3 separate regions of the Homo sapiens genome follow, and all the other regions are linked to region 1. The links come from fine-mapping of genetic effects on gene expression. A gene starts in region 1. Each other region holds a variant in brackets. All regions are shown on one strand. Distances are between the middles of the regions.

Region 1 (8,182 bases):
TCAAGTGATTCTCCTGCCTCAACCTCCCAGTAGCCGGGATTACAGGTGTGCGCCACCATGCCTGGTTATTTTTTTGCATTTTTAGTAGAGACAAGGTTTTGCCATGTTGCCCCGGCTGGTCTCAAACTCCTGAGCTCAGGCAATCTGCCCACCTCGGCCTCCCAAAGTGCTGGGATTACAGGCATGAGCCACTGTGCCCAGGCTGTAATTGCACTTGTTTATGGACAATTTCATATTCATTTCTTCTCCTTCTTATGCAATTTAATTTCCTTTTGGGTGACCAACTATTCCTGATATGTGTAGGTGCAGTCTTAGTGAGGCCCTGGGCACATGACGCAATTAGAATTTCTCTATAAAGGTTTTATTTTGTTTGTTTGTTTTTTAGAGATGGGGTCTCACTCTGTCTCCCAGGTTGGAGTGCAATGGTGCAATCATAGCTCACTGCAGCCTTGAACTCCTGGGCTCAAGTGATCCTCCCACCTTGGCCTCCTAAGTAGCTGGGACTACAGGAGCATGCCACCATGCCTGGCTCTTTTAAGGTTCTGAGTCCATCAGTGAGGAACACAAGGGCAGAGAGAATGGTTAGGATTTATGCAGGTAGCATAGCAAAGTGGTTAATAACATAACTTACGGAATTGGATAGCTGTGTCCAATTCTGAAATCCACAGTTTACTAGCTATCTGACATTGGGCAGGCTACATACCCTCTCTGTGCCTTAGTTTTTCATTTGTAAAGTGAGGACAATAATAGAATCTACTTCATAACTGTTATATACTTAGAAAACTACCTGACACATATAAAGTTCTACTTTGGTGTGTTTGTTTGTCTTAATGTAATTCCATGTGTTCAAACGTTTCCAACTCTTTCCGATAACGAGACCCCCCAGAGCATCCTACTTACTCCAGTGCTTTCCAGAGGATAGGCCCCAGCCTTCGCATTGATTCTCTGACTGCCAATCCATTCTTTTCTGCTTAATTAACTCAGAATCCGCTTCTGTTGCCTGCAACCCCAGAACGCTGGCTGTCATGTCAATTCTGTCTCATGGCAACCTGGGACTCTAAAACCTTCAAGCTGTGACCCCACAACTCTCAGTGGAATTCTGTACTGAACATCAAGTCTGTTCTCTCCTAAATTCACATCTGGAGTCATGATACTAAAACCATCCAGACCATCTCCTGTAGAGAGAGTTTACTTGATTGCTGGGCTGTGGAAATATTGCAGGGGATTATTAGTCCCAAATTAGTGATAAGCAAGTGAAGGTCGGGGATGTGAAGGAACTTATCAAAAGTTGGGATAGGATGGCTCCTAATTCAGGTTTTCTCTGCTAAAAGACTGATTAACCTATGTGGGGTGGGAGATGGGCTGTGAATAAGGCTTGGGTCTGAACTCTAACCCTTACAACTACACTCGTCTTTTTCAGTTCTTCACTTACTCCCCAGCTCCTTTAAGCTTAATATTGCCTCAGAGCCTTTGCATATGCGGTTCTCTCTGCTTAGAACTTGGTTCCTCTGCGTCTCCCCATCTCCACTCTTCTAATTCCTCCCCTTTCAGATCTAGGCTTTCAGACCCAGGCTTCCTAGACCACCAGCTATAAGTTGATCCCTCTACTGTTCCCAATGTCAACATTTGTTTGTTTCCTTCTTAGCAGTTACCACAGTTATTATTTTTTTATTTTTCCTGTTTATCTGCTCCTTGCCTGTCTCCCCCACTAGACTGTACATTACTTGAGGGCCGGGACTCTCAAGTAATGTATAGTCTAGTGGGGGAGACAGGCTGACTCAGTGCACAGTGTTTGATAAATAAATGGACAAAACCCTGAGCCATCTAACCAGGAATAACTTTGGTCACTGTTTTAGTCTGGGCTGCTATAACAACATACCTTAGACTGAGGGGCTTATACACAACAGAAATTCTCTTCTCACAGTTCTGGAGGCTGGGAAGCCCTAGATCAAGGCACAAGCAAGTTGGGTGTTTGGTAAGAGCCTTCTTTCTGGACCTTATGTTTCTGGGCCTTTCTGGTTCATAGACAGCCCCTTCTCGCTGTGTCCTTCCATGGTGGAAGGGGCAAGGCAGCTAGCTCTCTGGGGCCTCTTGGGCACTAAGCTGGGCATGGTGGCTCACGCCTGTAATCCCAGCACTTTAGGAGGGTGAGGTGGGCAGATCACCTGAGGTCAGGAGTTCGAGACCAGCCTGGCCAACATGGCGAAATGCAGTCTCTACTAAAAATACAAAAATTGGCCAGGTGTGGTGGCGGGTGCCTAAAATCCCAGCTGCTCGGGAGGCTGAGGCAGGAAAATTGCTTGAACCTGGGAGGTAGAGGTTGCAGTGAGCTGAGATCATGCCACTGCACTCCAGCTTGGGTGGGCAACAGAGTGAGACTCCATCTCAAATATATATGTGTGTGCGTGTGTGTGTATATATATGTATATATGTGTGTATATATATGTGTGTGTATATATATGTGTGTGTATATATGCCTATACATATTAGTGCCTATATATGTATATATATAGGTGTATATATGTATATATATAGGTGTATATATGTATATATATAGGTATATATATGTAGGTGTATATATATATATAGAGAGAGGCACTAATCCCATTCGTGAGGGCTCTGTCCTCTCATGACCCAATCACTTTCCAAAGGCCCCACCTCCTAATGCCATCATACTGAGGATTAGGTCTGGACATACGAATTTGGGAGGGGACACACACATATAGACCCTAGCGGTCATCTAGTTTCTTAGTCTCACTCCAAAGCTGAGGCTCAGTAGGAAATACCGACTTGGCCAAGGTCATTATCTGAGAGTCAAGAACAGAACTCGCACACAGCCATCATCACCTCAAAGCCTTGAATTAGGCCGTCATGATGGGGCATAATGTGGGAGAATTCAAGGGCGCTGGGACAGATGCTTACTCCTCATCACCAAATCTAAGCAGCAGGCACTATCATCATCATCATCATCATCATCATCATCATCATCATCCTCCTCCCACCCCATTTTACAGATGAAGAAATCGAAGCTTAAGAGAGTCTGTGACTCCCTGGGAAGTGTAGGAGGAGGAGACTCGAACTTGGGCCTGCCAGCGAGGTCCGCGGGCGCTTAACCCGGCTGCTGCGGCTCGAGGCCTCGCTCTGCGGGTCTGTACAATGGGGCTGTCCGGGCCGGGTGCGCCGTGGGAAGAGCGAGGAGCGGGGAGGAAAACTTGGCGGGGCGGACTCGGGTTCCTCGGGTTCCAGCTGGCTGCTGAGGGGGTGGACGGAGGGAAGGGGGGGCGGTGGGGGCGGGGCGCGCGGGCTGGGCACAAAGGGCTCAGGCACAAAGGGGCCGCTGTCCCGCCGCGCCCCGCCCCGCCCCGCCTCTGCTGCCGCCCCCCGTCTGGTGGCCCGACCCGCGCCGCCCGCGGCTCCCTTATGTCTCTCGCCGTCTCCAGCCTCAGTCCCTCTCTGTCTCTCTCTCAGTCTCTCTCCCTGTCCTCCCCGGCCGCTCCTCCGAGATGACGCCGGGGTCGGTGCCCCGGGCCTGCCCTATCCCCTGGCTCCAGGGCTAGGCGGGACCGAGGGCTGCCCCAGACAGACGGACCCGCGGACCCACAGACCCCGCGCCCAGGAGAGGAGCCGCGCCGCCCGCCGCTGGCAGCCCGTCACCATGGTAACGCGCCAAGGCCTGGACCACCTCGCTCTGCCCCCTTTCAGTGGGCACAGCCCTCCCCATTCCCTGCAGAACAGCCCCGGGTGGCCCTGGCCTTTTACACTGAGACGACCCTCAGTGCCTTGGCAGGGTTGTGCTTACCTGCTTCCACCCCAGCAGGGGTTCAAGGGCAGGAGCCCATCTCTGGCCGCGTCCTCTCCTGGCTTCTCCATGTGTGTGTATGGATGGAGTAAGATTGTACTTGTAAACTTTAATATTCCCCAACCCCTAGACCTGAGCCTGAATCTCAGCCCTGAGGCTGAGGGCTGAAACGGGGTGGTTTTGCATGTTTGTTTTGGAACTGACTGTGATATGCACATTGTCCCGGCAGGGAGTTTGGATGGGGAAGAGTGGTGGTGGGGGTTAAAGTCCCCTCCCAGGCCAGCCAGGCAGTGCAGGGCGAGGAGGGTTAAGGGTCCAGGGTGAAAAGGAGAGAACTGCTTACCAAAACTTGGGATGCTTTTGCTGTTTTAGACTCAGCTATGGAAAGTCAGATATACACATTGAAACCCAGGGTGCTTCCATGGGAATTGGCTGGGGAGAGGGAAGAGGAAGGGACTTTTGGAGCTGGAACCTTGAAAAAAGTTGAGACATTCTGGGAGAATGTGTGTGTGTGTGTGTGTGTGTGTGTGTGTGTGGTGGTGGTGGTGGCAGGGATGCGTTTGTGCCAGTATCTGGCAACAGGGAATGAAAGAAAAGTCTGTTTTTGGAGGATTTCAGCCCAGCTCCAGACAGATACAAGAGCCCCAGGCAGATTCACAGGGGCTGTAAGGATTTTGAAAAAAGCTGTGAAGACAGGCCAAGGCTTTAACCCTGTGACTGTGACCAACCATGTTGAATTTGTGTGGGTTTTCACTCACAGCAAATGCATCTCCACAAGCAGAAGAATTCCATATAGAGGTGTTCATACTCTCTCTCTCTCTCTCTCACACACACACACACACACACGCAGGCACTCACACACACGTACACATGCACACACACGTACACATGCACACACACATACACATGCACGCACAGAGCACACCTGAATGCTCCCACTGACTCACACAGCTGAACACATGTTCACACCCTCTCATACACCCATGCCTTCTGCACCTGCTCCCCCATACTGCTAAACTATGGGCATACATTGGCATACACACCACAGACATATTGCAAAACCGGGCACCTACATCCATGCACTGCGGGGACAGGTGTACACACACATGGCTCTTGGAGCTGTTTGAAAATACTCTCATAAGCCAGTGGTTATTCACCTCTCCCTACAGGCAAGGCCCTGTGCTAGGTGATTTACATCCAGGAGTCAGTAACTCATACCAACTCTAAGATTAGACCTGCGGCTATCTCCAACAGATGGGGACCTCAGGCTCTGGGAACTTAAGTAGCTGCCCAAGGTCACCCCACCCAGAAAGTGCAAGTTAGGACAGTCTGAATTCTGAGCCTGCACTCGGCGGTCATGGTCACTCCAGGGCCACAGCGTGCACCTGGTGTTTGCCAAGCCTCTCCTGCTTTCACACCTAACCTAGTCATTAGAAACCCCTCATTGAACCCCAGATCCTCAGATCAAGGGTCAGGCACTGGTCTGCCCCCTGTCAAAGGGTGAGCAACTCTTTCCAGATTGGGAACAATGTGCAGATTTCCTTCCCTTGCCTGTTTTTTAAAGAATAAAGGTTGTTGCCAGCCTACCTCCCTGGCCTCACTTCTGTGCTCCAGCCACTCCAGCCTTGCTTGCGAGCCTCTTATGGTTCACGCTCCCTGCTGCCCCAGGGCCTTTGCACATGCTGTTCCTGCTTGGAGGAATACCTTCACCTAATGAATTCTTATTTACCCGGTAAATCTTCACCCAAATGTCACCTCTTCAGGAAAGCCTTCCCTGATTTCCCTGACTCTTACTCTAGCATGTCATGTATCTTTCCTTTATGATAACCCATCATAGCTGTAATTTTTGTGGGGCATTTGATTAACAGCTGTCTAGTGTTTGGGGGCACCCCCATGTCAGAGAATCTTATGGCAAAGGGGCTTAGGGTTGATCCTGTCCCATGGTTCCCAAATGTTAGTATCACTGAAACAACTTTTACACATCCACTTACTGGATAAAATATATAAGAAAATGATAAAATCTACTACTTATTATTTGCTCAATATTTTTCTTTAAATCAACTTACTTTGTACACTGAAAAATATATTTAAATAGAAAATTTTATATCACAACCATGAAAAAATCAGTATCCATTGTCATAAATAGAAAGTAACTAAGCCGGGCGCAGTGGCTCACGCCTGTAATCTCAGCACTTTGGGAGGCCGAGGCTGGCGGATCACCAGAGGTCAGGAGTTCAAGACCTGCCTGGCCAACATGGTGAAACCCCGTCTCTACTGAAAACAGAAAAAACTAGCCGGGCATGGTGGCAGGTGCCTGTAATCCCAGCTACTCGGGAGGCTGAGGCAGGAGAATCACTTGAACCCCGGAGGCGGAGGTTGCAGTGAGCCGAGATCGCACCATTGCACTCCAGCCTGGAGGACAAGAGCGAGACTTTGTCTCAAAAAAAAAAAAAAAAGTAACTATAAAAATATGTACTCAATGAAGGCAAATCTGTGTTAGTAAATTCTGGCTGGATGAGGTTGGTGGTGAACAATTTCAAGCCCGAGGACTGTTTTCTTTTGTTAAACAGAGTGATGAGTAAGTGCCTGAGAGGTCTTCGAGATAGACTGGCTCCAGACTGAGGTATTGTCCTTGGTGTCATCGTGAGGAATGGAAGAGAACTGGAGTAACTTTCTCGCTGTGATTTCACATCAATCTATGTTCTCCCAAAATTGTTTTGTGGGCCACCTGTGAGAAAAACTGGTCACGTTCAGGTTTTTTTTTTTTTTTTTTTTTTAGATGGAGTCTCGCTCTATTGCCCAGGCTGTAGTGCAGTGGGACTGTCTTGGCTCACTGCAATCTCTGCCTCCCAGGTTTAAGCAATTCTCATGCCTCAGCCTCCTGCGTAGCTGGGACTATAGGTGTGTGACACTAGGCCCAGCTAATTTTTGCATTTTTAGTAGAGATGGGGTTTTACCATGTTGGCCAGTCTGGTCTCAAACTCCTGACCTCAAGTGATCCTCCCACCTCAACCTCCCAAAGTGCTCGGTTTACAGGCATGAGCCACCACCCTAGCCAAGTTCAGTTTAATCCATTCAACATTGCCCACATACCTGCTGCATGGCAGTACCCCACCCCAGTTCCCTACTGTGTGCCAGGCCCTCTATAAGGACGTGGTTCCTGCTTTGGGGGCTGGCAGTCCATGGAGAAGGCAGGTTCATCCACAGATAATTCTAGGCTGTGTCTGATGGGTGGTGGGGGTCCATCCTTCTGCCTGGAAGCACATGTGTCCTGAAAAGCAAAGAGAAGAGAAGCAAGTCTGGAAGGGCTCTGAAGGGTGGGCAGGAGGTTGCTCAGTCCAGGGAGTGGGGCAGTGGAAGCAGAGACACAGATGTGTGTCCAGGCAGCACTTTCCAAGATGTGGCATCCACCAAAGGTTCCAGGAGGGGAGATTTTAGATGGCACTTAGATGAACAATTTTTAGTTTACAGCTTTTCATCTTAATGAGTATTAGGAAGGAATTTAAACAGCACAAACACATAATAATAAATATAAATAATTTTTTGTTTTGAGACAGGGTCTCGCTCCATCACCTGGGCTGGATGGAGTACAGTGGTATGATCATAGCTCACTGCAGCCTCTATCTCCCAGGCTCAAGCAATCCTCCCACCTCAGCCTCCCAAGCAGCTAGGACTACAGGTGCGTGCTACCATGCTCAGCTAACTTTTTATTTTTTGTAGAGATAGGGCCTCCCTCTGTTGCCTAGGCTGGTCTTGAACTCCTGGGCTCAAGCGATTCTCCTGCCTTGGCCTCCCAAAAGTGCTGGGATTATAGGCATGAGTCGCCACACCCAGCCAAAAAATAGATTTAAGTTGAAAAAGAATTGACAAAAAGTCAAACGTTAAGTAAATAATAATTAATAAAAAAGAGTAAGCCAATAACAAATTAGAATATGTGAACATGGCAGAAAGAACCTCATGAAAGGGGCCCATGATGATTGGAAAGCCTTGGGCTACAGCATAAAGTATGTTTAGAAGAAGTAGGGAAGGTAAGCTGGGAGCTGACTGACGGGCCACAGCACCAGACCAGTGAGTTGCTAAGGCAATAGGGAGCCACCCGAGGTTGTTGAGCAGTGGAGGGTCACAGTTGGATCTCTGTGTTAGGAAGCCCACTATGATGACTAAGAGGAGCCTGGCGTGGTAGCAGGGAGCCCGGGGAAAGAGACAGGACAGCTGGTGGTTATGTGCCCAGGGTCATACCCCAGTGCTACCATTTAGTAGCAGTAGAGCCTTGAGCTCAGTTTCTTAACTTGTAAAATGGGAATAAAAATACCCAGCCCATAGAATTATTGAGATAAAATAGTTAATGAAAAATGCTTAGCAGGGGCCTAACACACAAGACAG
Region 2 (8,182 bases), 75 kb after region 1:
CAGATTTTAATCTTCACCCTCACCTCCTGCCATTTCATTTTTCTGACTTCTTTTGTGCCATGGCGTCTGGTCTACTTACATCTCTGGAATCCAGACTTACTAATTATGGGCATACAGGGTTCTGGCATCTTCATTATGCCTTCTGGGGTCGTTGTGCCCAAGAATATATTGAAATACACATTATTTTATCATAAGTCACTTCCATTTTATGTCTCCTTTATATTAGAGACATTGCATTGATGTGTGTGTGCATTATCATCCATAAGTTTCATTTCGAACATTTAAATGAAAGAAAGCTTAAAATGTTTGATAGAGAAAGGGGGCTTGGGTAATCACACTTGTGGGTTTAAACCCAGCTACAATGTGTTCACGTGTTCATCAAAAGATATGTGGCCAGGTGCAGGGGCTCATGGCTGTAACCCCAACACTTTTGGAGGCCGAGGTGGTAGATTGCTTGAGCCCAGGAGTTTGAGACCAGCCTGGGCAACGTGAAAAAACCTCGTCTCTACCAAAAAATACAAAAATTAGCCAGGTATAGTGGCACGCACCTGTAGTCCCAGCTACCTGGGAGGCTGAGGTGGGAGGATCGCTGGAGCCTAGGGAGGTAGAGGCTGCAGTGAGCCCTGATGGTGGCACACCACTCCAGCCTGGGTGACAGAGTGAGACCCTGTCTGAAAAAAAAAAAAAAAAAAAGATATGTGCAAGAATGTTTACAGCAGCACCATTTGTAATAGTTCCAAACTGGAAACAACATGAATATCTTGAATATCTCGAAGCTGAATGGATGCATAAACTGAGGTGAGCCACACAATGGAGCACCCACAGAAGGAAGAATCAGTCACTCACAACTACACTTGGCAGTACAGATGGGTCTCACACGAGCATAAGGTTGAGTGAGAGAAGCCAGCCACAAAAGAGTGCGTGCTGAGTGACACCACTTATAGAAAGTTCTAGAATCAGCACAACTCATCCATGCTATTAAAAGGCAGGACAGTGATTACCTGTGGGGGATGGAGGGTGGATGGAAGCACAAGGGGAACTTCCGGGGTGATGGTCATGTTCCTGTTTCGTGATCTGATGGGTTCAGTTTGTAAAAATGTATCAAGTTGTACAGTGATGTGCACTCTTCTGTATATAGGCTCGTATTAGGGTTCTCCAGAGAAACAGAAAACAGAACCAATAGGGGTGTGTGTGTGTGTGTGTGTGTGTGTGTGTGTATGTGTGTAGAGAGAGACAGAGAGAGAGACAGAGAGAGCAGAGAAGAGGGGAGAGATTTATTTTATTTTAAGGAATTGGCTTACATGACTGGAGGCTGGCAAGTCCCAAATCTGCAGGCTAGGCTGGCAGGCCGGAGACCCAGAAAAGAGCTGACATTGCAGTTCAAGTCTGAAGGCCGCCTGCTGGCAGAACTCAGTCCTTTCCTATGAAGGCTTTTAATGGATTGACCAAGGCCCACCCACACGGTAATCAGATTGCTTCACTCTGTCTGCTGCTTTACCTTCGTGATCTGCTTTACTCAATTCGGCTGATTTAAATACTAATTTCATCTTTAAAAAGATGGTGGCCTAGCCAAGTTGACACATAGAATCAACTGTCACAATGCTATACCTCAATTAAAAAGTGATTAAAGTGGGGGGTGCTTTGGACTGAGGGTTGAGAACCACTAATTTAGTTGAAAGCTCATAAAGGGACCCACATTTTTTTTTTTGAGATGGAGTCTCGTTCTGTCTCCCAGTCTGGAGTGCAGTGGCGCGATCTGCCTCCCGGCTTCAAGCAATTCTCCTATCTCAGCCTCCTGAGTAGCTGGGACTACAGGCGCATCCTGCCACACCCAGCTAATTTTTTTGTGTTTTTAGTAGAGACAGGGTTTTGCCATGTTGGCCAGGCTGGTCTTGAACTCCTGATCTCAGGTGATCTGTGCGCCTCAGCCTCCCAAAGTGCTGGGGATTACAGGCGTGAGCCACTGTGCCCAGCCAGGGACCCACATTTTAATTACAGTCACCAAAGGGCCAGTTCTGTATTTGGTTGCACAAGCAGGAGTATTGTAATTGGATCAAGGAAGAGGATGTGTGTTCCCCCGTCCTCCCCCCTCCCTCCTCCACCCCTCCTCCCCCTTTCTGCTGATTTTTCATTACCTGGAGAATTTTGGTCATTTCTGAAGGCTATTCCTTTGTAGTGACCCAGCTTGTCATGGGAATTATGTGGCCAAGGGAGTAGCCAAGAAAGAATGACTGGTATCTCAAAGAAGCATGATTCACACAACAAAACAAAAGCCTTCAAAAAAATAGGTGCCCTTAACCTGATAAAGGGCATCGATGAAAAACCTACGGCTAACATCATACTTCCTGGCAAAAGATTAGATGTTTCCCTCCCAAAGATCAGGAACAAGACAGCGATGCCCATTCTTGCCACTTCTATTCAACATCGTACTGGAGGTTCTAACCAGAGCAATTAGTTAAGAATATGAAATAAAAGACATCCAGATGGGAAAGAAATAAAACCATATTTGCAGATGATATAATCTTTTATATACAAGAAAATGGTAAGGAATCAACTAGAAAATTACTAAAACTAATAAACAAATTCAGCAAGGTTGTGCAACCTGTATGTAAAATCAATACATAAAAAGCAATTATATTTCTATACACCAGCAGTGAACAATCTAAAATCAAATTAAGAAAACAATTTAATTTACAATAGCATCAACAAGAATAAATTCTTAAGCATAAATTTAACAAAAGGTATACAAGACTTGTATACATAAAACTACCAAATATTGTTGAAAGAAATGAAAGATCTAAATAAATGGAGGCAGACTCCATGTTCATGGATCAAAGGACTTAATATTATTAAGATGGCAATACTCTTGGAATTCGTCTAAAGGTTCAATGCAATCTCTGTCAAAATTCCAGCTGGTTTTTTTTTTTTTTTTTTTTTTTTTTTTGCAGAAATTGACAAGATGATCCTAAAATTCATATGGAATTGCAAGAGACCCCAAATAAACTAACTACAATGCTCAGGTAATCAAGACAGTTTGGTACCAGCCTAAGGATAGACATATAGATTAAGGGAATAAAATTGAGCATCCAGAGATAAACCTTTATGCTTATGGCCAATTGCCTTTCAACAATGGTACCAAGACCATTCATTCAACAGGGGAAAGAAGAGTCTTTCAACAAATGGTGCTAGGACAACTAGATATTCACATCCACACCATACACAAAAATCAACTCAAAATGGATCATAGACCTAAATGTAAGTTAAAAGTATAAAACTCTTAGAAAAAAACACAGGATTAAACTTTCATGACCTTGGGTTAATCTAAGTCTTCTTATATATAACATTAAAGGCACAAATGGCTAAAGAAAAAAAGACTGAACTTCATTACAATTAAAAAGTTTTCTGCTGCAAACAATATCATCAAGAAAGTGGAAAGACAACCCACATAAACTAAAAAAAAAGGAAAATCACATATCTTATTAAGGGATTTGTATCCAGAGTATATAAGGAAGCTTTGCAACTCATATACATAATAAAATGTAAGGGGCCAGGTGCAGTGGCTTACACCTGTAATCCCAGCACTTTGGGAGGCCAAGGCAGGTGGATCACTTGAGGTCAGGAGTTTGAGACCAACCTGGCCAACATGGTGAAACCCCATCTCTACCAAAAATACAAAAATTAGCTGGGCATGGTGGCTGGCACCTGTAGTCCCAGCTACTGGGTAGGCTGAGGCATGAGAATCACCTGAACTCGGGAGGTGGAAGTTGCAGTGAGCCGAGGGTGTGCCACTGCACTCCAGCCTGGGCAACAGAGTGAGACTCTGTCTCTAAATAAATAAATAAAAGTCAAATAACCTAAAAATGGGCAAAGGATTTGAAGAGATATTTCTCCAAAGAAGACATGCAAATGGCCAGTAAGCACATGAAAAGATGTTCAGCATCTTCAGTCATTAGGGAAATGTCTATCTAAACCATGAAATATGACTTCATACCCACTAGACTGGCTCTAACGAAAATGAGAGACAACATTAAGTTTTGGCGAGGATATGGAACAATTGGAAATTCATACATTGCTAGTGGGAATGTGAAATCGTGCAACAACTTTGGAAGGCGGTTCGGTAGTCCCTGAAAAAGTTAAACATTGAGTTACCATGTGATCCAGCAATTCCACTTCTAGGTATATAGATCCAAGAGAAATGTTTTTTTCTCTGCTAAAAATTCCTTTATTAGAGAAGAAGAGGAAGACAAGTACCAGGAGATAACCAACAATAACTCCCACCACCACCCTTTTCTTTTTTTTTTTCTTTCGTTTTTTTTTTTTTTTGTATTGATATGGAGTCTCACTCTGTCACCCAGGCTGTAGTGCAGTGGTGTGACCTTGGCTCACTGCATCCTCCGCCTCCTGGATTCAAGCAATTCTCATACTTCAGCCTCCTGAGTGTCTGGGATTGACTACAGGCATGTGCCACCAGGTCCAGCTAATTTTTTTGTATTTTTAATAAAGACGGGGTTTCACCATGTTGGCCAGGCTGGTCTCGAACTCCTGACCTCAGGTGATCCACCCGCCTCGGCCTCCCAAAGTGCTGGGATTACAGGCATGAGCCACCACGCCCGGCCTCTTTTTCAAACAGAAGTAGTCCAATCCGGCAAAAATATCAATCCTTGGATTTGGAGACCAAACTC[G/C]TAACAGGCTTCTCTGACTTTCCCAGACATCTTCCATCCACACATAGACGGAGCCAGAGACTGTAATAAATCAATGTCAGGGGGAGGAAACGCCAAGATTGATGACACATGTGTCAGAATGTCTGAGTAAATTCCTGACTTTTCACCTGAGTGAGCTCTTGGAGGAGTAAACTGTTCTGCTGGCCAAAGGCAGGCGGCAATATCAAAACTCCACGTACACGCTCCAGTTGACTGAATACCATGAAGCGTTCTCAGCACAACAATATAGAAAAACTTCAAAGGAAGGATTCTTCCTCCAAATTCCACCAGTTACATCACTTGGGCCTGAAACCATCTTGTTAGACTACATGTTGAGGCTCGTCATTCTAGATTTGTTTGGTGCTGTCTTTGCATTCAAGTCTTGTTTTCCAGAAGAAATGCAGGCACAATCCAATTGCAATTTTATCATCATGCTTTTTGGATGTTACAGTAAGCCTCCATTCCCCTTCCTTCTCCTTCCCAAGTACCACTACAGCCTGCTCGGCCCCCGACCAACACCCCAACTTTCACTGACACAAGCCTCCCCAAGAGAAATTAAAATATACATCCGCACAAAAACACGTACACAAATGTTCACAGTATCATTATTCACAAGAGTTTAAAAGTGGAAACAAGCCAGGCTCAGTAGCCCACGACTGTAATCCTAACACTTTGGGAGGCTGAGGCAGGAGGATCGCTTCAGCCCAGGAGTTTGAGATCAGGTTAGGCAACATAGCGAGACCTTGTCTCTACAATAAAATAAAATAAGATAAAATTAGCCAAGTGTGGTAGCACGCATCTGTAGTCCCAGCTACTCAGGAGGCTAAGGGGGGAGGATCGCTTGAGCCCAGGAGGTTGAGACTGCAGTGAGCTGTGATTGTGCCACTGCACTGCAGCCTGGGCTACAGAACAAGACCCTGTCTCTAAAAATAAAATAAAAGTGGAGAGTACCCGAATGTCTATCAGCTGATGAATGGATAAATAAAATGCGGTATATTCATATAACAGAACATTATCCAGTAATAAAAAGAAATACAATTCTGATATGTGCCACGACATGGATGAACCTTGAAAACATTATGCTAAGTGAAAGAAGGCAGCCACAAAAGATAACATATTGTATAATTTGATTTATATGAAATGCCCAGAATAAGTAAACCTATAAAGATAGGAAATAGGTTCACGGTTGCCTAGGAGTGGGGAGAGAGGTAAGGAATTGACTCCTAATGGGCATGAAATTTCTTTTTGGGGTGAAGAAATGTTCCAAAATTAGATGATGATGATAGATCTACAACTTTGTGAATACACTAAACGTCAAATTGTACACTTTAAACATGGTATGTTCATTATGTCTCAGTAAAACTATTTAAATAAACAAAAAAAAATGAATTCTTGACTTATAAGTTCCATGGTAGAGATTTAGTCTAAGGAAATAGTTGCCAACAGGCTCAAAGATGTAGCTTATATCACCCAGAGTGCAGGTGCAGGACACAGAAACCACATTCACTACTTTCAACATAGGGAGATTTAATGCGAGAAGTTGTGTTCTTGCAAAATCATGGAAAATTCTGAAGCAAGGGACCTGGGCTTCTAGGAGCGATTCTTAGAATGTCACCGCTAAACTGGCCTGCCCAGGAAAGCTGCTGCCTCTGCCACCACCCAGAAGCTTGGGAACTATTGTCTTCAGGAGTTTGTCACCTTAGCTTCACTCCAGCCATCAGATGCGGCTGATGCCCCATCACCACTTCTCAACACCCAAGAGTTGGTGACCAGGCACTGTAGACACACCTGTGGGAGGTCTCAATGCCTTCACAACCAGCAAAAGGAGGAAGATGACCTCTCTCTTACTTTTGCCTTCAAAACCTCACACAAATGCATTTAATGGGAACTACTTAATTGGTCTCTAAACCCTAGCTGCAAGGGAGTTGGGAAATGCAATCTTCACCCTTCCAGCCCCTGCAGTTGAGGAAGGCATATAAGAGGGGGTTGAAATTGATATGGAATAAGCCAATCCACCTTATGAGCCCAAGGCTACAGGGATGGCACTGTTTGCAGTAGTGAAAAAATGGGAAGCAACCTAAATGCGCAAGAAAAGTGGGGCTTGACAAATTCAGCCATGTGATGAAATTCTTGATAGCCAATAAATATGTTGTAGAAATACATGTGATTTGAAAATGTTAGGCACACAGTGAAAAAAGGCAAGGGACAAAAGAGTGCTTAGAGGCAACTTTCATGACAGTAGGAATCGCATCCTCTGGTCCGCTGCCTGCCACATGCTTGGCACAGGGTGAATGTTCAACAAACATTTCCTGGACAATTGAGTGATTCCATTTTTAGAAACTAAATACATAATTATGTGAGTTTGTATCTACACATACACCTAAATATGATATAGCAACACTGAACAAGATAAAACAAAATGTTAACAGTTGTTCTCTTTGTTGGTGATACTTGGATTGACTTTAACTTTCATCTTTTGGCTGTTCTGTATTTTATAAATTTTAAACAGTGAGCATGTATTACGATTAATTAGGGGGAAACCACAGATGTTCTGTTGAAGCCACAGAAAGAAAACAGGCCTGCCTCATTTCTTCATCTCCCCCAGGGCCTGGCACAGAGCTGGGTCCAGAGTGGGCACCAAGCCACGCTTGGTGACCAAGTTGACCTCCGTTTGCTGCCTGAGAGATTTCAGGGTCTTTCTTCAGGAACTCCTGGGTAGAGTTGGGTTTCTAAGATAATCTAGACTCTAACATAGTAGTGCTTCTCCCCATCTAAAACTGGCCAAGCATCAAAGCCATGTGACCTTTCCCAAGTGCCAGCCTTGAGCGCTTGCTGAGGCTGTCCCAGGGTGACTTCAAGCTCAAGGATCTTTAAGAGCTAGATCAACTACTCAGCCCTGCCCCTCCCGTGCACCCATCAGGCCCTGGGGCCATTGCTGCTTTGATCTACCAAGCCAGGCCTGACATCACTGCTCCCAGCTGTGCTCAGTCAGGCAGAGGCTTTTTAGGGATTGAGAGGAGCGTTGGTCTGTCCTCTGGGGCTGCCCCTTGGTATCATGAGAAGTCTCTCAGGGGGTGCTTTGTTTGTTCCACTTTCACTTACACAGCTGTTAAGGTCTTAGGTCACACGAAGAAGGGAGTAGGGACCAGAATGAGAAAAACGAGAGTCCCAGTTGGCTCTGTGCCATCCAGAACCACACAGGTTAGTGAGGTAAATTATGAGCCTTGCTTTCCACAACGAGCTCTGCCTCACACTTTCTGCCGGTGGACAGGGCACTGATAATGGCAGACCCTCTTCTTCCTTGGGGCCTTTGGGAGAATTGGAGGAGATGCCCGAGTGCTTGATAATCAGTGCCAGCCATCACTCCATTTATCACTCCCATTAGACAGATGGGGAAACCGAAGCTCCAGAGAGGAAGGACACTGCCAGGGTCACACAACTGGAAAAGGAATGTGTAACAGGAGAGTTTCCATATCAACCAC
Region 3 (8,182 bases), 20 kb after region 1:
TTCCTTATGTGTCAAGCAGAAACGTTAATAACACAGCACCTAACACATGGAGATGACAACACATGGAGATGACAACACATGGCTTAGCAAAGACTCTGGCATGCAGCAAGTGCCCAGTAGCTATTGGCTATCGCTATCCCACTTCCTTGTTTCTCCATCTGAAATAAGAGCATGGCAGCCTCAAAGTCTGCCTCTCCAGCCACCATCACCCAGAAGCAGCCACCTTCACATGAAGTCTGGTGGGGCTTGGGGACAGATACAGCTGACTTGAAATGTGAAGGCCTAGGTCCAAGTCCCTGATGCTTATCAGCTGTGTGGCTATGAGCCAAATGTTTCACCACACTGAGCCTCAGTTGCATCATCTGTAAAATGAAAATAATAATGCCTGGACTGCCTACATCAAACTGAGTTACTGTGAAAGTCAAGTGAGATGAGCAAAGCCATCATCACTCTGGTGCTTTGCTGTTTGCAAAAAATGGCTGGGCTGTTTTTTCTCATTCAATGAGAAGGTGAGAGAGAAAGCATGTTGCAAACCCAAGAGGGCTAAGTGAAAAGGGTCGAGAAAACCTACAGACTCATGAAGGTTTATGGATATTAAGCTTCTCTGAGGCAGCCCAATCTACAATATGACTGATATAAATGGGTTTATCAACATAAGGTATAACTATGGTCAGATCTCACTATTTCCGCAATCAATAATTCCAGGAAACACCTGTTTAATTAGCAGGAAATTCAGTCTCACTCTCTGTACATCTCCCCTACACACATCCAAATTATATAAGATTGTCTGGGACTTACTCAATCCACAGAACTCAGACTCTTTTTCCAAAAGCCAGTTAAAGACCTGTTGTCAGCCCAGTGGAGCTGTTGTTTCCGTTGTTGCCACATGGTGTCACTGTTGAACACTGGTCCCGCACAGCCCAGTGGACAGGCTCAACTGAGAGGGATCACTTGGGTCACAGCCTGTTCCAGAATGACCCTCTGTACCCACCTATACAGGGAATTTCTGGCAACTCCTGTTAAAAAAAAATTTCTTTTTAAAGTTTTGCTTCACCTTCGTGTTATTATCCATTAATGGGAAATAAATAAAAAATAAACAAATAAGCCTTCATTTATTTAATGAGAAATAAATAAACAAACAAATAAAAAATAAACATTCAGGCCCAGAATAACCTTTGGGTCAGGAAAAACTGGACAGCCATCTAGTAAGTTAGTGGCAGGGTCAGATTTCCTGACTTCTCATTCAATACTGTTTCTACTTCACCCTCATACACTATCCAAATTCAATAAGATGTTCAACACTTTATTATAAAATAGGCATTGTGTTAGATGATTTTGGCCAACTGTAGGCTGATGTAAGTGCTCTGTGCACTTTTAAGATAGGCTAGTCTAAATAAGCTATGATGTTCTGTAGATTAGGTACATTAAATGCATTTTTGACTTATGATAGTTTCAATTTATGATGGATTTACCAGGATATAACCCCACCATAAATTGAGGCCATCTGTATAATCTCACTTAATCCTCATACCAACCCAGTAATACTGACATGTATTATTATCCTATTTGCAGATAGGGAAATTGGGGCTCAAAGAAGTTAAGCAATTTGCACAAATTAGCAACATAGACGTTTGTCTAAACCACGTCTCCCTGGCTTTAAAATGGAGGGCTAAGACTTGAATTGGGTTGGGAAATGTTCTGGATAGATGCAGAGAGGAAGGGAGCATGAGCCAAGCAAGGGGACCACTTGGGAAAGCCGATTGCTAACTAGTGCATGGTGCTCTGAGCTTTCTCACTTGGGTCAGTAGGCTAGGATTTCCAAGGTCAGGGCCAGGACGAGGGTGGGGCAGGAGAGTCAACCTTTGCACAACCTTGACAGTGAGTGCCTCCTAAATGCTGCCTCATCCTAGTCCCTGACCTGTTCCAGATTCCACGTGGGAGAGGGAAAGGAGCAAATCCAAGGGTGGAGCCTTTCAGGGCCAGGTTCTCTGATGCCATCCCCTTCTCTCCACAGGCTCCCTACTCACACTGCCTCTTCTTACACGAGGGCTGGCCACTCTGTCTGAGGGATGAAGTTGTGGTCCACTTGGCACCCCTCAACCCTCTCTTATTGCGCCAGGGTGACTTCTACCTCCAAGTGGAGCCCCAGGAGGAGCAGTCTGTCTGCATCATGATCAAATGCCTCTCCCTGGACCTCTGCACAGTGGACAAGAAGCCTGTTCCAGAGCCAGCCTACCCTATACTTTTCACCCAAGAATGGCTGGAGGCCATCAACAGTGACTTTGAGGGAAATCCCCTACACAACTGCTTGGTAGCATCAGAAAATGGGATTGCCCCTGTGCCTTGGACCAAGATAACCAGCCCAGAGTTTGTGGATGACAGACCCCAAGTAGTGAATGCCCTCTGCCAAGCCTGGGGGCCCCTTCCATTAGAGGCACTGGATTTGAGCAGCCCTCAAGAGTTGCACCAGGCCAGCTCCCCAGACAACCAGGTGCTTCCTGCCCAGAGTTTGGCCAAGGGTAAGGGCAGGACATATGGGAGCAAGTATCCAGGACTCATCAAGGTGGAGCAAGCCCGGTGTGGGGAGGTGGCTTTCAGGATGGACGAGGTGGTCAGCCAGGACTTCGAGGGAGACTATGTGGCTCTCCTAGGCTTTTCCCAAGAGAGCAGAGGAGAGTCTCCCAGTAGGGAGGCAGGCACATCCAGTGGGTGTACTTCTGGGGCACTAGAGGAGATAGCTGGAACTAAGGAAACTCCCTTATTTCAAAAGATACTGCCTCTCTCAGAGGCCAATGAAGGACCTTCCTTGGGAAATCGGGCTTGCACAAAGCCAGAAAGCTCTGAGGAGAGGCCCTATAATTTGGGCTTCAGGAGAAAGGTCAATCTTAAAGCACCCACCCACAACTCAGAAAGGCCGCCCCAAGGCTCCTACATGAATGTCCTTGAGGACGCACTGGACTGTGCCTCTGGTCTCAGGGCAGGTGTCTCACAAGAGCCAGCTGCCTCCAAGATGCAGGGACCTCTAGGAAACCCAGAGAATATGGTGCAGCTCAGGCCTGGACCAAGACAAGCCTCCTCTCCCCGCCTGTCCCCAGCTTCTCCTGCAGCTGCAGCCTCTGAAACAAAGATAGAGGTGAAGACCAAAGAGAGAAATGGGAGACTTCCCAAGCCCATGCCCTGCCCTAGCAGAAACACCTCCTCCCCTGAGCCCCCCACTCCTGGGCTCAAATTCTCATTCTTGAGAGGGCAGAGGCAACCCTCTGTGACCCCGGAGAAAGCCTCACTCCAGCACAATGGGCCCTGGAAAGTCCTGTGTTCCCTCTACTCTCCTAAACCCAAC[C/T]GAGCCAAATCTTTGGGGAAAGGTAAGATGCCCACATGCTCAGCTGTACAAGGAGGTTATTGTCTGGTTGAGATCACATTTTAGGTGGTTTTGGTTGTAAGTGATAGAGACCACCTGGGCTGGCTCAGCTTCAGGGGTTTAGTATACAGTGTGGCATGTTAAGGGGCTTGAAGTCTCATGTGTCTGGAATTGAGCAAGGCACTGTGACTGTGTTACAACTGCCTGAGTTCACACTCCACCTTTGCCATACACTGGCTGTGTGACGTTGGCCAAGTACTGAGTTTCTCTGAGTCCACGTTCTCCCTATCTGTGCAATGGGAATGTCACCTATTTCACAGTGTTATTTTGAGGGTTCAAAGCGACACCAGAAGCTAGGTGTAGAGGCTTATCCTGTAATCCCAGTGCTTTGGTGGCTGAAGCGGGAGAATTTGGGTGGCTTGAGGCCAGGAATTTACAAGAAAGAAAGAAAAGAAGGAAAAAAGGAAGGAAGGAAGACGGAAGGAAGGAAGGAAGGAAGGAAAGAAGGAAGGAATAAATAAAAAAGCTGGGCTTCGTGGTGCATGCCTTTAGCCCCAGCTACTCGGGAGGCTGAGGTGGGAGGATCTTTCAAGCCCAGGAGTTCAAAGCTGCAGTGAGCTATGTTCATGCCACTGCATTCCAGCCTGGGCAACAGAGTGAGACTCTGTCACTAAAGAAAAAAAAGTGAGGTGTGGGGAGGGGTAACACTAGAAGTAAGGGGCTTAGCGCAATGCCTGGCACATGGGAGAGATCAATAGTTGTAAGCTATTATTAGTCAGAAAGAGAAAGAGGAGACGTTTTCCCCTTAGAAAGCCCATCTTCTGCTTAACGTCCTTTTCTTTGTTGTTGCTTTTTCCCAGCTGGAACAACTCAGACCAAAACATCTGGCCCAGCCACTGCCCCCAGCCCACTGACTGAGGAAAAGGCTGCCTTGCCAGAAGCTTCTGCAGGCTCCCCAGAAAGAGGCCCCACCCTGGAGGAGGAGCCCCCAGGGCCTGAGCCCAGGATTGGGGCTCTAGGTGTCAAGGTTTTCCGCTCCAGGATAGCATGCCTGCCAGGTTCCAGGGGATTCAAGCAGGAGGTGGTAGGGAGGGAGCTGGGGGCCCCAGAGCATCTTCAGCTGCTGTTGGGTGGAGGGGAGGCAGGGAATGCCCTGGAGGCCTAGGTTCTAGACCAAGCCTCCTTGGGCCTCAGTTTCCTCATCTTTCCCATGGGAGAATTGGAATAGATGAAAGCAATTTGTTGGTATCCATCCACCCATCTATCTGTCTGTCCATCTGTCTACTTGTCCATCCATCAGTGAAGCAGCCAAGGTGGATACTGGGTTCCCCAGAAGCAGAGCCTGAGACATAGATTTTTGGGAAAGTGACCTATTGGAGGAGGGCTCTGAGGAGAAGGACAGAGGGTCAAGGCAGGGGAAGGAGCCAAGCAAGGCTGTGGGCTGACCCCAAGGAGAGCACTGGGGCATGACCCGCCCCACAGAGCTGGCTCCAGCTGAAGGTGTAGGGGACTGGCCTTTTATAAGCCTTGTCTGTCAGTCATTAACTGTGGGCTGATCCCCAGTCTGTCCGTCATTAATGAACTGCAGGAACTTCGGGCTGATCCTGGAATGGGGTGGGGCAGGGGGAGCCAGTGATCCAGTTCAGCCCAGAGTGCTTCTTCAGAGAGGGGGCATCTGTGAGCCACTGACAACTGATACTTTCAGACTCTGGGGATGGGTTCTCTGCCTGCTGAGGGGATCTGGGTTTGGGGTACTAGCAGCATCCAATACAGAAGGTCTTATCACTCGTATTTAATATTTCCCCATTGTTGTAACAGACATTTACTGGTTCCTGGGCTTAGCACTGGCGATTCATAAGAGAACAAGTCTGATGTGTTCTCTGCTATCAGGAAACCTATATTCTAGTGGTGGGGAAAAGCCAACAGGTTATCACAACAGATTATTGAAACCCAGTGTAAACAAAGTGTGACAGTTGGGAAGGACAGGGGGCTGTGGGAGCACAGATGAGTCCCCTGGTTCAGGCTTAGGGTAGTAGAGGTCAAGGATGACTTCCCGGAGGAAGTAACGTAAAGCCCAGTCCTATGGTATGAGTAGGAATTATCCAGGTGAAGAGTTGGGAACGGCGTTCCAGACAAAGGGAACAGCATGTGCAAAGGTCCAGAGACAAGAGAACCACAGTGCTTTCTGGAGACTGATTGTCCTGAAATACTATTTTACTTCACAGACTTCCATATCTCTTCAGGACCTTGAGCACTGCCCTGTCTTTTTGCAGCTCCCAGGAGACCTTATCTGTCATTTTCCTGGTCATCTTTGCTGAAGCTCCTGCTGTTTGTTCCATATTAATTGTACACAAAGGATCTCATGATCCTCTTAGGGCCATCATGGGCCAAGGGCTCAGATTTTGTCCATGGAAGGCTCTGCTATGGGAGGAAGGTGACCTTTGTTTTAGTTCTAACTCTATCATTAGCTCCCTGTGTGTCCTTGGAGAAGTCACTGCCCTCTCTGGGCCTCCTTGAGAGGAGGAGAATAGACAGATAGGACCTGGCTCACTGTCACTCTTCCCTCAGTTACTTTTGTTGTAATTCTTGGGGGTTGCAACATGCACTGTTAGCTCGCACATGCCTGATGTGTAGCATGTGTGCAAAAAGCATTTGCTGTGTGAATGAGCAACGTCCACATGCGTGCTCCTTCTGTCCGTTTTTTGTCCTGCTCTTCTCTAGTGATCTTGTCCTCATTCCCCACATGACTCCCCCCATCGCATCCCCCGTAACCAACTTCTCCCCGCCGGGTTTTCATGTTAAGGCTCCCTCTCCTTTATTACCACTGCTTCTCTTTCCAGGTCACCCACTGCCCCAAGTTTCATCATCTTCAGGCCTCCCAAAACCTTGAACCTATTGGTTCAACCACCTTTTCACTCCCCTTTTCCAGCATGTCTCCCCACCCTCCACCACATCCCTTCCCCATCATCATATCTTCCTCACTCTCCACCACATCCCTTCCCCATCATTATGTCTCCCCCACCTTCTGTCACATCCTCACATCCCTTCTTCCTAGCTTAGATTCCAGGCTCACATTGTAATCACTTCCTTTCAAACACTCACTCGCTTGCTTTCCTCTTCCACCTTCACACTTACCCAGATAAATCCCAACCTCCGTGAGATCCAACTCTCCACCTGCACCCTCAAGCTGAACGAAGCTGGAAAAATCCACACAATTGTGCAGGCTAATTGTGTTGAATTCCTGACCACTGACCTCTGGGGGTCCCAATGGTGCTAGTGGATCCTACTTCACCTCCAGAGTCCTGAATGACTCCCCCACAGTCCTGTGTGATGACTTCACACCTTCTCTCTCCTTTGACCTTCAACACCACCTTCCCCAACTTAAATCTCAGCTGATGACCTTCCTTCTGGTCTGAGTGAGTAAGCAGAAGCAATTGGAAGGAAGTCTATGAATTGCTTCTGCTTACTCAGTCAGACCAGAAGGAAGGTCATTCACCTACCTGCTGGCATCTGTACCCACAGGCTCAGCATTCTAGTATGGATGAATTGTCCATGTGCCTGAGGCTGACCCTGAACCCGTGCTCTGTTCCTCTTTACCTCCTCAAAGACATCCCTCCAGCAAGATTCTCTTCTCCTTCCTACAGGATCATCTTTCCTCTTTGGCTCTGGGCCATTCCCATCAGGATGAGAACACGCTGCAATATTGCCCAGCTTGAAATGAGCTATTCTAGGCCCCCGTGTTCCCACCCTCACCCTTTTACATTAAAACTCCACAAAGCAGTTGTCTGTGTTCCCTGTTTCCACACCTTCTCTCTTCCACTCACTCTAATCAGAATCCCTTCCCCACTGTGCCACTGAGACACGTCTTGTCAAGGTCGTCATTGCGTTCCATGTTTCTAGATCCAGGGGTCGATTCTCAGTCCTCATCACCCTAGGCCCTTCCGCAGCATTTGGCATGGATGGCCACTTCCTCCTGTTGAAAGGCTTTCTTCACTTGCCATTAGATCTTCAGTCACCCAGTCCTCCTCTCACCTCACTGGCCACAATTTTGCAGCCTCCTTTCCTGTCTCCTCATCTCCACAACCTGTAAATCCTGGAGGGCCCCCAAAGCCCAGTCCTTGGTCCCTTTCTCCTCTCCATCCACACTCACTTCCTAGGCGATCTCATCCTGGAGGTGGAATATTTTCTGTAAATGCTCTCTCCAGGCTGACAACCCCGACACTGATTTTTCCAGCCTGGGCCCTGGCCATGAACTCCAGACTTATCCATCCAGCTGTTTACTACTTGATGTCTCTGCGTGGAGGTCTCACAGACATCTCTAACTTAGCATGCCCAAATATGGACTCCTGACTTCACATCCCCTCACCCCACACTTCCCAACCTTCCAGTCTTTCCTCATGGCAGTAAAAGATGACCACATCATCCTTGATTGCTCTTTCTCTTACATCCCACATTCAATTTGTTAACTGTCAACTCTCCCATTAAATTGTATTCAGAATCTGTTGACTTCACCCCACCCAAGTCCAAACCAGCGTGGTCTCTTGCCTGCTGCAGTGGTCTCCTCGCTGGTGTCTCTGCGTCCACACCGGCCTCTGTTGGAGTTTCCTTATAGGGCAAACAGTCCCCAGAGCCTGTGCTTCAAGATCTAGATCTGCTCCAAGCCAGCCCTGTGAAGCAGGTCTCCCCGTAAAGTTTTCATAAAGATCTGTTCTCAGGAAAGAAACTGATCAACATGCAGGTGTGAATGTCTGCTCCCATGCTGGGGATGGGGTTTTGTTTAATAGGCACTGTGTTTCCCATTGTGGCCATAACAAGTTATTACAA

Which allele goes with the higher level. Alleles are on the strand shown, and positions count from the first base shown. SD is a standard deviation of normalised expression in the study named. Not every link is listed here.
With allele G in place of C in region 2, the expression in prefrontal cortex of the gene that starts at base 3,421 in region 1 is higher (moderate effect, 0.69 SD a copy in ROSMAP).

What was found. PIP is the estimated chance that this variant, and not a neighbour inherited with it, causes the effect.
Region 2: its variant is fine-mapped to the expression of KIAA1755 in prefrontal cortex (ROSMAP, PIP 0.95).
Region 3: its variant is fine-mapped to the expression of KIAA1755 in lung (TOPMed, PIP above 0.99).

What each region holds. Positions count from the first base shown.
Region 1 is chr20:38,255,974-38,264,155 of GRCh38, reverse strand. KIAA1755 reads left to right here and starts at 3,421. Exons shown (of 14, transcript NM_001029864.2): 1 at 3,421-3,658. The coding sequence starts at 3,656. LOC124904900 (a long non-coding RNA gene) reads right to left here. Exons shown (of 3, transcript XR_007067581.1): 2 at 6,893-7,070; 3 at 6,295-6,527. LOC149684 (a long non-coding RNA gene) reads right to left here and starts at 3,981. Exons shown (of 2, transcript NR_104170.1): 1 at 3,800-3,981. RefSeq lists an enhancer at 3,164-3,663.
Region 2 is chr20:38,180,956-38,189,137 of GRCh38, reverse strand. No RefSeq gene overlaps it. Among named protein-coding and RNA genes, the nearest start is that of TGM2, 20 kb to the right of the region's middle. The variant G/C (reference allele first, on the strand shown) is at 4,683.
Region 3 is chr20:38,235,762-38,243,943 of GRCh38, reverse strand. KIAA1755 reads left to right here. Exons shown (of 14, transcript NM_001029864.2): 3 at 2,015-3,362; 4 at 4,219-4,416. Among named protein-coding and RNA genes, the nearest start is that of KIAA1755, 21 kb to the left of the region's middle. The variant C/T (reference allele first, on the strand shown) is at 3,341.